Homo sapiens: one gene and its partner. Each later gene encodes a partner of the first gene's protein in a complex. Each region holds a gene or a part of one and is shown on either strand. Other genes may lie near its edges.

What was found. The genes of interacting proteins can lie anywhere in the genome.
Region 2: FBXL13 (region 1) and DRC4 share a complex: the UniProt entries of both Homo sapiens proteins name them as parts of the nexin-dynein regulatory complex.

Annotation. Positions count from the first base shown.
Region 1 is NC_000007.14:102,812,797-102,819,945, forward strand, and holds part of FBXL13 (F-box and leucine-rich repeat protein 13), read right to left. Parts: intron 3,532-7,149; coding exon of another isoform or gene 3,390-3,531; exon of another isoform or gene 2,855-3,389; intron 2,844-2,854; coding exon of another isoform or gene 2,780-2,843; exon of another isoform or gene 1,621-2,779; coding exon of another isoform or gene 1,593-1,620; exon of another isoform or gene 736-1,592; coding exon 546-735; 3' UTR 1-545. UniProt on the Homo sapiens protein: Substrate-recognition component of the SCF (SKP1-CUL1-F-box protein)-type E3 ubiquitin ligase complex.
Region 2 is NC_000016.10:90,039,680-90,045,460, forward strand, and holds the end of DRC4 (dynein regulatory complex subunit 4), read left to right. Parts: intron 1-81; exon of another isoform or gene 82-620; coding exon 621-830; intron 831-2,790; coding exon 2,791-2,856; intron 2,857-3,222; exon of another isoform or gene 3,223-3,516; coding exon 3,517-3,666; 3' UTR 3,667-5,281; downstream 5,282-5,781. UniProt on the Homo sapiens protein: Component of the nexin-dynein regulatory complex (N-DRC), a key regulator of ciliary/flagellar motility which maintains the alignment and integrity of the distal axoneme and regulates microtubule sliding in motile axonemes.

The sequences.
Region 1 (7,149 bases):
AATTTAGGCAGAAATTTTGTGTAGTCAGTACTTGATTTGGCTTCTTTTTTTTTTTTTTTTTTTTGAGACGGAGTCTTGCTCTGTCGCCGAGGCTGGAATGCAGTGACGTGATCTAGGCTCACTGCAACCTCCGCCTCTCAGGTTCAAGCAAGTCCCCTGCCTCAGCCTCCTGAGTAGCTGGGATTACAGGCGCCCACCACCACACCCGGCTAATTTTTGTATTTTTAGTAAAGATGGGGTTTCACCATGTTGGCCAGGCTGGTCTTGAACTCCTGACTTATGGTCCACCCGCCTTGGCCTACCAAAGTGCTAGGATTACAGGTGTGAGCCACCGCTCCTGGCCTGGCTTCTTTTTTAAATCATGATTATTTAGACAGAAGAACTACTGATGTGTTTGGAAATATTTGTAGTTGGAATAAGAATCAGAAGATGGTTTGTTGCTTGTTTACATTGTTATTGAGATTCAGCTAGTAAACATACTTGCAACAAATGGAGAAAACTTGCCAAGTTCTTGATTTTTTGTTCTTCCTGCTTGAGGCTGAAGGTCACGCTGCTTGGTCTTCACTGCTGTATGTTGACTTTTTCACTGTTAATTCTAAGGCTCCTTTAGATGATGTTATGTTGTCAAGCTCTGTAACAGGGTTTCCTTCCCTATCATAGCCAAACCAACGTGGAGGGTCATTAGTGTTGTATTCCTGCTGCTGAACTTTAGATGACATTCTTTGAGCTGCCTTCCTGTAATAACAGTGCTTAGCATTAGCTAGTTGCAGAAGTAACCCCTAGTGCAAAATTTTCAAACTCAACCAAATTTGGAGTTAGGGAATTCACTGTCACAATCTGAATTCACATGAGACCTCTCTTGCCTTGCTGAGAGTGAGGATATGGGTAAGTGTACAAATAAACAGGGTCCCAAAGCCTCAGTAACTCTGATTCAGCCAGTTCAGAAATTAACAGATACAGTGAATGGGTAAGGAAACTACACATGGCCATGGAAGAGGAACACTGAGGCCTCTATTTATTTATACTGCTTTAAGTAAGCCCCTTCCTTGGTATTTCTAGTTTCTCTGATGAGGGAGTAACCTAACCAGCCTACCTGTGAAGGCTGACCATGCACCAGGCCAGGAGCTCTTAACCCAGAGTTCACAGATCCCTTTTGACTACATGGATGAACTTCAGGGAGGTCCATGAACTCCCTGAAAGTTCATGCAGTTTTGTCTATAATACACATTTTTATGAGAAGGTTTGTGACTCAAAGGTGTCACAACACTATAACACAGTATTAAAAAATACTGTTATAGTCTTTCTTAGCAGGAAACAAGAAAGTAAAGAATGCATCAGAAAAAAAGTAGGTCTAACTTGAAAACAAAGCCATTTTGAGGACAGAAGGAAGAATTTCCTTTCCTAGAAAGTTGGTTTGAATCACGAGATTAGTACTAAAGAGGAGATGAGTAATTGACCACTTCTGTACGATTAGAAATGAGTAACTATGATGTTTACCCATGAAGGCACTACCTTCCCCACTCTTGCCGTATGTTACCTTGAGTTATTAATTGCAAAAGTCTGGAAACTGAGTCATTGATATGGAGCTGGCATTACCATACACTTCGAGTTAAGTTTGTGCTGAATGGCCATATGAGTTCAGGTAAGGCAATGAAATAGGAAGAAAAAAAACCAACAACATAGAGATAACAGTTTAAAATGCTATTTCAGTTAAATCAAACTTTAGATGTATTAAAATAATTGTAACCAAACTTAACAGGGAGGTAACCAAAGCATTCCTAATTCTGCCTCTAAGCACATTGCTTTTTAGCTTATTATTGGCTCTCACACAAAACTTCTACAAACTTAAAGAACAAATTGAGTAAAAGCAATTATCATATACTAATTCCTAGTTTGGAGCCACCAATCCCTATGGACTAAAACTTGGCAAACAAGTTTATTCTCTTCAGAGAAATATTTATTCTCAGTTTTGAAAATGGTAAGTTTATTGTCAAAGATAATGTTTTGCATTCTGTTAATTTTTTAAATCTTTTTTTAAGGTGCTAGCCTGCATTTTAAACCTCTTATATAATCTTTACATATCCTCAAAGTAGAACATTACTATGCAAAAGTAGTGGGTTTATATCTTTTGCTTTTCCCACATTATTCTCCTAATGATATTTCTCCCTTTTCAATTCTATAAAGGTGAGATTATCATATCTTTCAACACATTTTCTGAACATTTTTCCCCTTAAGACTTACTGAAATATAATACCAAATGTTGAGGCATATAACATTAGCACCATCAGTTTCATGTAACAAACAGCAAGGCTCCATCATTACCCTTCACCCATCTCTATCAGTCTAAACATTATCCATTTTTCAAAACTCCAAACCAATCCAGCCTCCTTGGAAATGGCTCAAACCCAGTCTTCTCCTCCTCTAAACATCTACAGGAAGTTGATCATAGAATTAATTTCTTTCTATTACATAGCTTCAGGGCATTAATTATTTATAATTTTAAACTTTGTTATTTTCCTTTTGTTTAAGAAGGTAGTAAGTTACTTAAGAGTTTATTACATTTCTTTGCATCTCCCTGAAACTCATCATGAATAGCTCAAACGAGAGATTTCAGCAGCTTACACCAAGAAGGGAAGTCCTTTAACCCTCTTGGCTTCTGCTGGATTGCTGGTCTAGAAGGGGCATTCTTATGTTCCTATTTCCAACACCCTCCTGCCCCCTGCCTCCCAAACACCAGAGTTCTGGACACACACTGCAGTTCACAGTTGTTCATAATCATTCAATGCCACTGATGTTGACTGTAGTACAAGAGTAGCACAGTTAGAGGCAACAATGATCTTGACCTATAGGAAAAGGAAATGCTTGTTTTAGGGAGTAAAAGATTTGCAAATCCTCATTCACCAAGTTACATCTTACCTTAATGTCAGAAGAGCAACAGTTTTGACGGCTCTAGATAACTGGTAAGAGGATAAGTACTACTAATGATAAGTCTGGGAAAGTGTAAATATTGAGTCCTATGGTTGCTCAGTCAGCTACAAGCCAGGGTAAATTAGATGGTAATTGTGACATAAAACAATTAGCAAGTAGTGGGGGTTTGAGAAAATAACAAGAAAAAGGAAAGTGAGAATGCTGACTCCTTAATATAAGATAAGGAAAACAGTGAGTGAACAGGGAGACTACTCATTTAATGCAGTGTGATGGGACAGAATCGAAATGAGCTGCATGTTGAACCCCAGCCATGGGTGAAGTGCCCACTGGTATATGCATTTCTTTAATGTCCTCATTCCTTAGTCCCTGTCCCCCTTACCCTAGCTCTGCTCTCCAGTCCACCCACAGACAGCTTTAGTGAAACCAAACATCAGTGGGTCCCTGACTATTGGAAGTGATGCTTACTGACTGGAGGGGAGCAAAGGATCAGATCTCAGACCCACTCTCCTTCCAGACTCAAGTTCTGGGAGGTTAAGGCTTCCTCCACCTGGTATGTCTTTAGGGCCTGTTTTAGTCTGAAGTGCTTTCACAGCAAGGGTGGTCCTAGGGAAAAACAGAAAATATGAATCTGTCCTGGAGCAAATCTAGGATTATTTTTAGAGAGCTATGGATACTAGTATAGACTATTCCCTATTCCACTTCTTTCCTGCCCTTCAGAAAATCCTTAGCCGTGACTAGCTGTCCTCACCACCTTTGGCATCCTCACACGGACTGACTAACCTAAGACCCAGGACCTTGCCAAGAGAAGAGATCGGCAAGTGGCTGCCAGAAGGTTTTTCTGAGTTCTTTATCATAGCATCCTATGTAGCTGTGTGTTTGCACACACGCACCTTTAAAAAAAAATTTAGATTCAGGGTGTACACGTGCAGGTTTGTTATGTGGGTATATTACATAATGCTGGGGTTTGGGCTGCTATTGAACCCATCAGCCAAATAGTGAACATAATGCCCAGTAGGTACTTTGTTAACCCTCGCCATCCTCCCTGCCTCCCCACATTTGGAGTTCCCAGTGTTTATTGTTTCCATCTTTATGTCCAAGTGGTTAGCTCCTACTTTTAAGTGAGAACATGCAGTATTTGGTTTTCTGTTTCTCTGTTAATTCACTTAGGATAATGGCCTCCAGCCGCATCCATGTTGCTGCAAAGGACATGATTTCATTATTTTTTATGACTGTGTAGCATCCCATGGTCTGAATGTACCACATTTTCTTTATCCAATCCACCACTGACAGGCACTTAGGTTGATCCCATGACTTTGCTATTGTGAATGATGCTGCAATAAACATACAACTGCAGGTGTCTTTTTGATAGAATTATTTCTTTTCCTTTGGGTAGATACCCAGTAGTGGGATTACTGGATGAAATGGTAATTCTATTTTAGTTCTTTGAGAAGTTTTTATACTGCTTTCTATTTTGGCTGACCTAATTTACATTCCCACCACAGTGTAAAAGCATTCCCTTTTTTCCACATCCTCACCAGCATCTTTTATTTTTTGACTTTTTAATAATAGCCATTCTGATTGGTGCGAGATGATACTTCATTGTGATGGTAATTTTGCATTTCTCTGATGATTAGTGATGTTGAGCATTTTTTCATATTTTTGTTGGCCACTTGTATGTCTTCTTTTGAGAGGTGTCCGTTCATGTTTTTGCCCACTTTTTAATGGGCTTATTTGGTTTTTGCTTGTTGATTTGTTTAAGTTCTAGATTCTGGATATTAGACCTTTGTCGGATGCATAATTTGATAATATTTTTCTCCCATTATCTTTACTCTGTTGATAGTTTCTTTTGCTGTGCAGAAGCTCTTACACATGTATTTTGAATCGTATCAGGAAAGTTAAAAATGTAGAAACTATATTTCTGGGAGAAACCTCTCTCTCTCTCCTGCCCCTCCCCTTTCTCTCTTAATAGCTTGATGCTGTAGTGTGATCAGCACATGGGAGCTAGGAAATATTGAAAAAAACATGTATTCTTAGGAACCACTGTGTGTTCTAAATTCCATAGAGCACATATGGAATTCTTTGACTGCATTCCATTCTGCTTTGGCCTAAGTGACTGTGAGACCCCGTATGAAATGATTTGGGAATTGAACCAATCTGCTGCAATGGTTACTCATTTATCCTGGTGAGAGGTTTCTTTGGATCAGTATAGAACAGTGATTTTCAAACATGATATGTCATAGTTGTAACATTTCACATTAGATGGTTAATAATAACACTGTACTGAAGTTTGTTAGTGATTTTTGTTTCTTATAAATTAAAAGGGATTCAGGGTTAGCCCTGTAGTAACACTGTGTGCCTTAGCTCACATTTCCTTCTAATCTCTTGAGTAGGCAAAAAAAGGGAATGTTGGAGCCACCACCAAGGACTGCTCATAATCCACAGCCTCTCTTATTGTGCATCAGACATAAATTAGGCAAAACAGAGCACGTGTCTACCCTTACTGACCACATCCCTTGAATGTCAGAGCTTTTTAAAAGCTTGAGAATGTAATATAAAGGCGAAGAGCAGCACAGTATGATTAAGACCTAGGTACAAAGTATGGCTCTCCTTATTTGTGTGGCTGTGGGCACATTATTTAACCTGTTTAAACCAGTTTCCTTATCCATTTTGATGATAAAGTGTATTTGTGAGGCAATATCTGTAAAATAGGATTTAGCACAGTACGTGGCAAATAATAATTGTTAAATAACATTATTTGTTCATACTGATAATAAAAGTCAACAGCTCCACATCAGAAAGGCTTGAACCTTTCCATGAGCTAGAGAGGAGAACTCTGATAAGAGTTTTATTTTTTATCAACACAGATCTCCTAGAATGCCTGAGCAGTAGGGACTGTCCGAGTTTAAGCTTCTAGCAACTGCTAAAGAAGGCCTTCCAGGAATTTCATACTGTGATTTGGGGCTCTGAAGGCCACTAAGACTTTCTCTACTAGTTCTCTAGAATTGAAGGTTTTGGGCTCCAGATAGAAATATATCAAAAGTTCCCTTTATTTTTTTAAAAAATTTATTTCCAACTTTTATTTTAGGTTCAGGAGTACATGTACAAGATGTACAGGTTTGTGACATAGGTAAACGTGTGCCATGGTGTTTTGCTGCACAGATCATTCCATCACCCAGGTATTAAGCCCAGTATCTATTAGTTATTCTTCCTGATTCTCTCCCTCCTCCCACCCTCCACCCTCTGACAGGCCCCAGTGTGTGTTGTTCCCATCCATCTGTCCATGTGTTGTCATCATTTAGCTCCCACTTATAAGTGAGAACATGCGTTATTTGGTTTTCTGTTCTTGGATTAGCCTTTTCGCTAACTATACAATTAGTGATTCTTCAGGTTCTCTGTGGTTCAGGCCCTCCTGGGTTGTGGGGGCCATTGTGAGGGTCTTTCTTCCTCTCTCTCACTCCTACCTTGTTGCCTTTCCCCACAGAGGGCCATAAGTTGAATGGCTGGCTGTCACAGCTGCTTCAAATACAAATAGCTTGTCGTTTTCTGATCATAGTTGTTACTTATTCCTCCTTGAAATAAAGGAGCCTTTATCTTGCATCCACACGGTGCTTCTGGGGTCACTTCCTGGAAACCCTTCAGACTCTGGGGTTGGTAGAATGCCAGCCATATCTTCTGCAGGAAACTCTCCTGCAAAAGGGCTACAGCCAATTTGCTCATTGACCAAAAGTTTGCTACTCCTCTGGTTCAGAAAGGGTGAGCTGAGCAGACATCTTTGATTTGCAAAGCTGGTGCAGTAGTTTCAGATTCCATTGAGTATGAGTGAATTTATGTATAAAACAGCCTCTTCTGACGGCTGTAATTGGACCTTAAGGGCTGCATCATACATTGTTTTCATGTTCAAAATGGAATCAAGCATGTGGAGAGCATTGCTTTGTGATTCAAAGACATTGAGCTTCTTCCCAAGCCAGAAAAATCTCTCTTATCCCACCTGCCAAAGGTTCTGTTTCACCCAGACAAATCAAAGCCTCTGCAGTTGAGGGAGCCACACTGGCCCTGATTAGATAGTGAGCATAGGTAAGGGATTAGAGATCATCAAGGGCTTGAGTTTTGAAGGGTCTACATACACTGTGCATTTCCAACTGCACTGAAGGATCTAAATGCAAAACGAAGCTGCTCCATAGAGCACCCGGAGCTGATCGCAGAAAGCTGCATGCAACTAGG
Region 2 (5,781 bases), on another chromosome or scaffold:
CGCTGCTCAGGGTGTTCACTTTTTTATAGTCTTCAACAAAGTCTAGATTTTTTTAGAATGCACAATTAATAAGTAGAAGAATTAGGAGATAAAAAAGAACAGTTTTACTGGCTGGCAGGTAGCTGGCTCCAAGGCCGTGCTCCAGATCCACCATTTGTGGGGCGGACAGCACATGTGATGCCAGGATCTGGGGCTGGCCAAGGGAGCATATCCTCCAAGGGGCCCCACCTGCAAGCTCGGCCTGCTGGATGCCCTGGATCTCAAATCTCACCTGAGCCCACAGCCCTCACTCGGGCAAGACTGGCCTCGGCCACCCATGAAGCAGCTTTCAGGGTGGGGCTGCTTCAGCTCTTACCAGGACACTTATGGCTTCCAGAGACACCTTCCTGAGAGAAGGGCTTATGCTGATGTGTTCCTCCTGCCTTCCACTGCGTGGATGGCTCTACAAAGGGCCAGGGCGCAGGCAGTGTGGACAACACACTGACCCCGGTGCTGTGGGAGTGGGCACTGTTGGGAGGCAGCGTGTTCCAGGCAGGTGCAGAGGTGGGAGGCAGCATCTTCCCAGCGAGATGTCCCCAGGTGAGGGGCCTCATCGCCCACCCCCAGCGCTGTCCCTACAGGTGCAGCAGGAGCGGGACGAGCTCTATCGGAAGTTCACCGCAGCCATCCAGGAGGTGCAGCAGAAGACAGGGTTCAAGAACCTCGTGCTAGAACGCAAGCTGCAGGCTCTGAGCGCCGCTGTGGAGAAGAAGGAGGTGCAGTTCAACGAGGTCCTGGCTGCCTCTAACCTGGACCCTGCAGCCCTGACGCTGGTGTCCCGCAAGCTGGAGGTAGGCCCTAGACAGGCTCCTGACCCCAGTGGGCGGCCTCATCCCTGTGGCAAGAGTCTTCAGTTCTGTGCTGCTCCTCGGATAGGCACAGAGACCCCTCGGTCGGCCACTGAGGAGGGGCATTCATGGGTTTCCTGTGGCCAGTTTCGGGCCAGTTGGGAACTGTGGAAGGGCTGGGCAGGGGAACCAGATCAGGGCCCACTCTGCTATTGATGGGGAGCACAGGGCTGGAGGGGGCTGGTTGGGGCCAGCACAGAATGGGGACGGGCAGAGGGTTGGAGAGCCGCCAGGAGGCTGAGTCCACAGGTGGGGCTGGGAGGGGCCGAGGTGACTTGGTGTTTGCACATGGGGGAACGACGGGTCCCGGCCCAGTGGGCGGTGGTGCCTGTGGGACCCTGGTCATCTGGGATGGCCTGGCTCTCAGGGCCTGAGGTAGTGAGGCTGTATAGGAGGGGCCTCACCTGGGCCAGAGGCACTGTGGCCCCGGGACTGAAAACTCATCTTTGTTTGCTCAGCACTGGGCCCAGTGAGCACAGGCAGGTGAGGGAGTGAGGGTCCCACTGTTGGGAGGTGGGGGAGGCGTGTTTCCAGCTCCTGGCTGAGGGCTGCACCCAGCCTGCTGCTAAGCCACCGAAATGAGGGTGAAGAGAGCAGTCGTGGCCTGTGAGGGTCATTGCAGCTGCGCCCACGCGCCAGGGTGAGGATGGAGGATGGAGCTAAATGTGGGTCAACCCCTCCTTTCCTGGTCATTGTTACCTCGACTTCTAAGTGAGGAATCTTCTGGGGAAATGACAGAGGCCCCCGCAGGGACACTGTTTGCTGCTGGCCAGGTGTGAGGGGGCTGCTGTGTCAGTGGGCAGCAGGGACGGCTCTAAAGCCAGGCTGGGCCCAGCAGTGCCCCACAGGCAGGAGCCCAAGAAGTCCCTGCCTCGCCACGTGGTGAGACCCTTGCCCACATCTGGGCGGGGCCAGCGCTGCTGAAGACTACTTTTTTCTGTTACAAAAAAGTGGGATAGCCGGGCGCGGTGGCTCACGCCTGTAATCCCAGCACTTTGGGAGGCTGAGGTGGGCAGATCACGAGTTTGGGAGTTCAAGACCAGCCTGGCCAAGATGGTGAAACCCCGTCTCTACTAAAAATACAAAAATTAGCTGGGCTTGGTGGCGGGTGTAATCCCAGCTATTTGGGAGGCTGAGGCAGAGAATTCCTGGCACCTGGGAGGCGGAGGTTGCGGTGAGCCTAGATCGCGCCACTGCACTCCAGCCTGGGCAACGGGGCGAGACTCCATCTCAGAAAAAAAAGTGAGATAGTACATTCACAAGCCTCAAGAAATTTAAGCAATATGTAGGTGGTGTTTAGTGACCAGTCTCCACAGTGTGGCTGCACGCTGCCTGCCCTCACCTCATCTGCATTTCTTGTGGTCTGGACTGCTCTTTGAGTTTTTTCTTGAGACGGTGTCTTGCTCTGTCACCCAGACTGGAGTGCAGTGGCTCAATCTCGGCGCACTGCAACCTCCGTTTCCCAGGTTCAAGCAATTCTCATGCCTCAGCCTCCTGAGTAGCTGGGATTACACAGGTGTGAGCCACCGTGCCCGGCTACTTTTCGTATAGTAGAGACGGGGTTTCGCCACGTTGGCCAGGCTGGTCTCAAACTCCTGACCTCAAGTGATCTGCCCTCCTTGGCCTCCCACACTGCTGGGATCACAGGTGTGAGCGGCAGTGCCTGGCCTGGACTGTTGCTGGAGAGGCAGGTTGTGCAAGCTCCCAGTTCTCTGCTTCTTCCTTGTTTTCTCTCCACCCTTGGAGACCTTTTTCTGCTGACAACCCTGTGTGGATGGATGCATCCATCAAACCAGGCTGCTATTCGCTGGATCTCTCAGAACGCCCACTGGAGTCCCCAGGCCGCTCCCGTTGCCTCGGCCAAAAGATGAGTCTCAAACTCCCATCACCTCTCTCTCCTCAGGATGTTCTTGAGTCGAAGAACAGCACCATCAAGGACCTGCAGTATGAGCTGGCCCAGGTCTGTAAGGTACGGCTGTGCCCTGCCCTCCCTCAGGGGCACCCCCTCGGTGCCCAGACTGTTCTAAATGCAGACGGTCTCTGAGGACCCCACCTGTGCCCACTTCGTACCTCGTTTGACAAGGCAGCTGTCACTGTCCCCACGTGAGGGTGCAGTCATAGCCGAGAGCATCTGGATTCTGTGTGGTCTGGGGCAGTGCACTGCTGTCTAGGCCATGTCTCTGCTGGGATGGGTGTAGGGGGGGACCTGGACGCTTCCCTGGTCAGCCCCTTCCCCTGGGCAGGGAGTCAGAAGGTGCTGTGCCCACCGGGGAAGGAAACAGACGTCATTCAACAGGGGAAGGGAGGGCGTGAAGAACCTGAGTGGGAAACACCCAGCCAGGGCCCAGAGCCCTCCCAGACCACAGCTCTGCCCTGAGTGTCCCTGCCCTCTGCCTCCGTCTCGTCATTTGTGGAATAGGAATAGTGACAGCCTCTCCCTGTCGTGCTACCTGAGCCAACGCAGTGAAGGTGCTTGGAGCTGTGTCCCACACGGGAAATGACTGATAAGCCTTTGGCTTTATCCTTCTGCACCGTGATGCTCACGCTGCCCCTCCATGGAGCTGCACTCAGCTCTGGTGGTCCTGAGCGTGGGGACCCTCAGCTCCCTGACACTGCCCTGTCTCCACAGGCCCATAACGACCTGCTGCGCACGTATGAGGCAAAGCTGCTGGCCTTCGGGATCCCTCTGGACAACGTGGGCTTCAAGCCCTTGGAAACAGCTGTGATCGGACAGACACTGGGCCAGGGCCCCGCGGGACTGGTGGGCACCCCGACGTAGCTGCCCCCCTGGGGGGCCACAGCCCAGAGAACCAGCCTAGGAACACTCGGGATGACACCCCTTATCACACCAAGGACAGCAAGTTTTTTAGATTTTATCATCAGCAAATGAAAGCTTTTCACATGTTCTTGCCATCCTCTTTCCTGGCTCTGTGGAGGAGAACCACCTGCAGGACCCTCACCCATGGTGTCCCTGTCGCTCCCTTCCCTGGGTGCCGCACGTCCAGCCTGTGTCCAGGCCTACTCCCTGGTCTCACCTCCGACCACAGTCGGCGGCACCTTCTCAGAGTGCCCCGCACTCACCTGGGGGTTGGGGCAGTGCCGCGCTGTGCTGCCTGTCTTCGCGCCACTGTTGTCCCACCGAATGGACAGCTTTGCAGGTGCTGGCACTAACTTCATTGACACCTGAGTCACAGCTGCCCAGTGGGATTCTCCAGGGGGCCGGGACTTCCCTAGGAAGTGGTGAGCCAATGCTCCCTGATGAGCACAAAGCCCGCTCTGTTGAGGGCTGGGTGGGTGCAGCCAGCGTGCGGGAACGGGCAGGCAGCCTCCCGCTGCCAGTCTTCGCTCTAACTCCCTCGGTAGGTGATGTAGGACCAGGGGCACGTGGAACTTCTGGGCCTTGCTGGTGATGGTTAAAACAACCTGAGATGGAGAGGCCAGGAGAGAGTATAAGGGGATAGCAGCAAACCACCTATCTGGCCCCAACACACCTGAGAGAATTCAGCAGCCCAGACTGAGGGTCTGGGATGGGGTGAACCTTCCGCACCAGAGGGACACTCCACAGAAGCCACAGCCCAGTAAGTCAGGCGCTTCTGCGGCGGCTCCAGTGTGGGGTGAGGCAGTGAGGTTAGGCCCAGAGAGCTGGAGTTGGCTCAGATGAAAACCTCTGTCAACAAAGAGGGGATGAATCACCCTTGGCCCAGCCTCCCCACAAAGCCTGACCCTGGGCAGGTGAGTGACGGGTGTGTCCTCGTAGAGTCTATTGCTGCCTGGACACCTTTCTTTTGGGAGCTCAAAGCAAGTGAGCTCACCTACCTGCCACCGCCCAGGACCAGTCTGCCCACTGCCTAAATGATGCCCGGCCAGCAGGACCTGGCCTGCAGATCCCAGTGAGTCATGAGCCTCAGCCCCCTCCAGCCCACTGGGGCTCTCACCTCCACATGTGGGTAGAAGCTTTCCTGCCCCCTCTTCCTCCAGTAGCCCTCAGTGTCGAAGGTGAGCTTGTAGGTGCCTGCCTTCATCTGGTCCAGGACAGTGACCATCTGGGTCTGTGTAGCTGGGGAGAGGATGAGGCTGCAGAGATGGGGACCAGAAGCCCCCCACCCCAGCTTTCCTGGGTCTGCATCCCAGTGGGCCTCAGACACTGCCCTGCCACCTGTCAGACTTGGGTGAGCAGACACAGTGAGGCTGTTAGGTCCTGCAGTTCCAGAGCAGTCTAGGGACACCACTGCCCTGTCTTTAGGAAATCACAACACAGAGAAGCAAAAAGGGAAAAAGTCTCCCACAATTTATCCCATGAGCAAGAACCACTTTATAGCTGGCATATATTTTTCCAGATTTTCTCTATGCATAAGTATATTTGTTTAAAAACTTATAAAGTGGATTATACTATTTGTATTGTTTTATAACCTGTGGTTTTCACTTAAAATATTGTGTATGGCTGGCTGGGCGTGGTGGCTCACACCTGTAATCCCAGCACTTTGGGAGGCTGAGACAGGCGGATCATGAGGTCAGGGTATCGAGACCATCCTGGTTAACACGGTGAAACCCCATCTCTACCACAAAAAAATTAGCTGGGCGTGGTCACGGGCACCTGTAGTCCCAACTCGGGAGGCTGAGGCGGGAGAATGGCATGAACCCAGGAGGCGGAGGCTGTAGTGAGCCGAGATCGTGCCACTGCACTCCAGCCTGGGCGACAGAGCGAGACTCCATCTCAAAAAAAAAAAAAAAAAAAAAAAAAAAGTGTGTGGCTTTCTGGGTCAATAACTACCAAACCTTCACCCACAGAGTGGGCCTGTCCAACTCCACGGAGCGTCTGTGTTGTGTGCCCTGGTCCCTTATCAGGGTTCTGAATAACCGTGGCTTTGCCCATAGTCACTTCTGGAAAACCTCC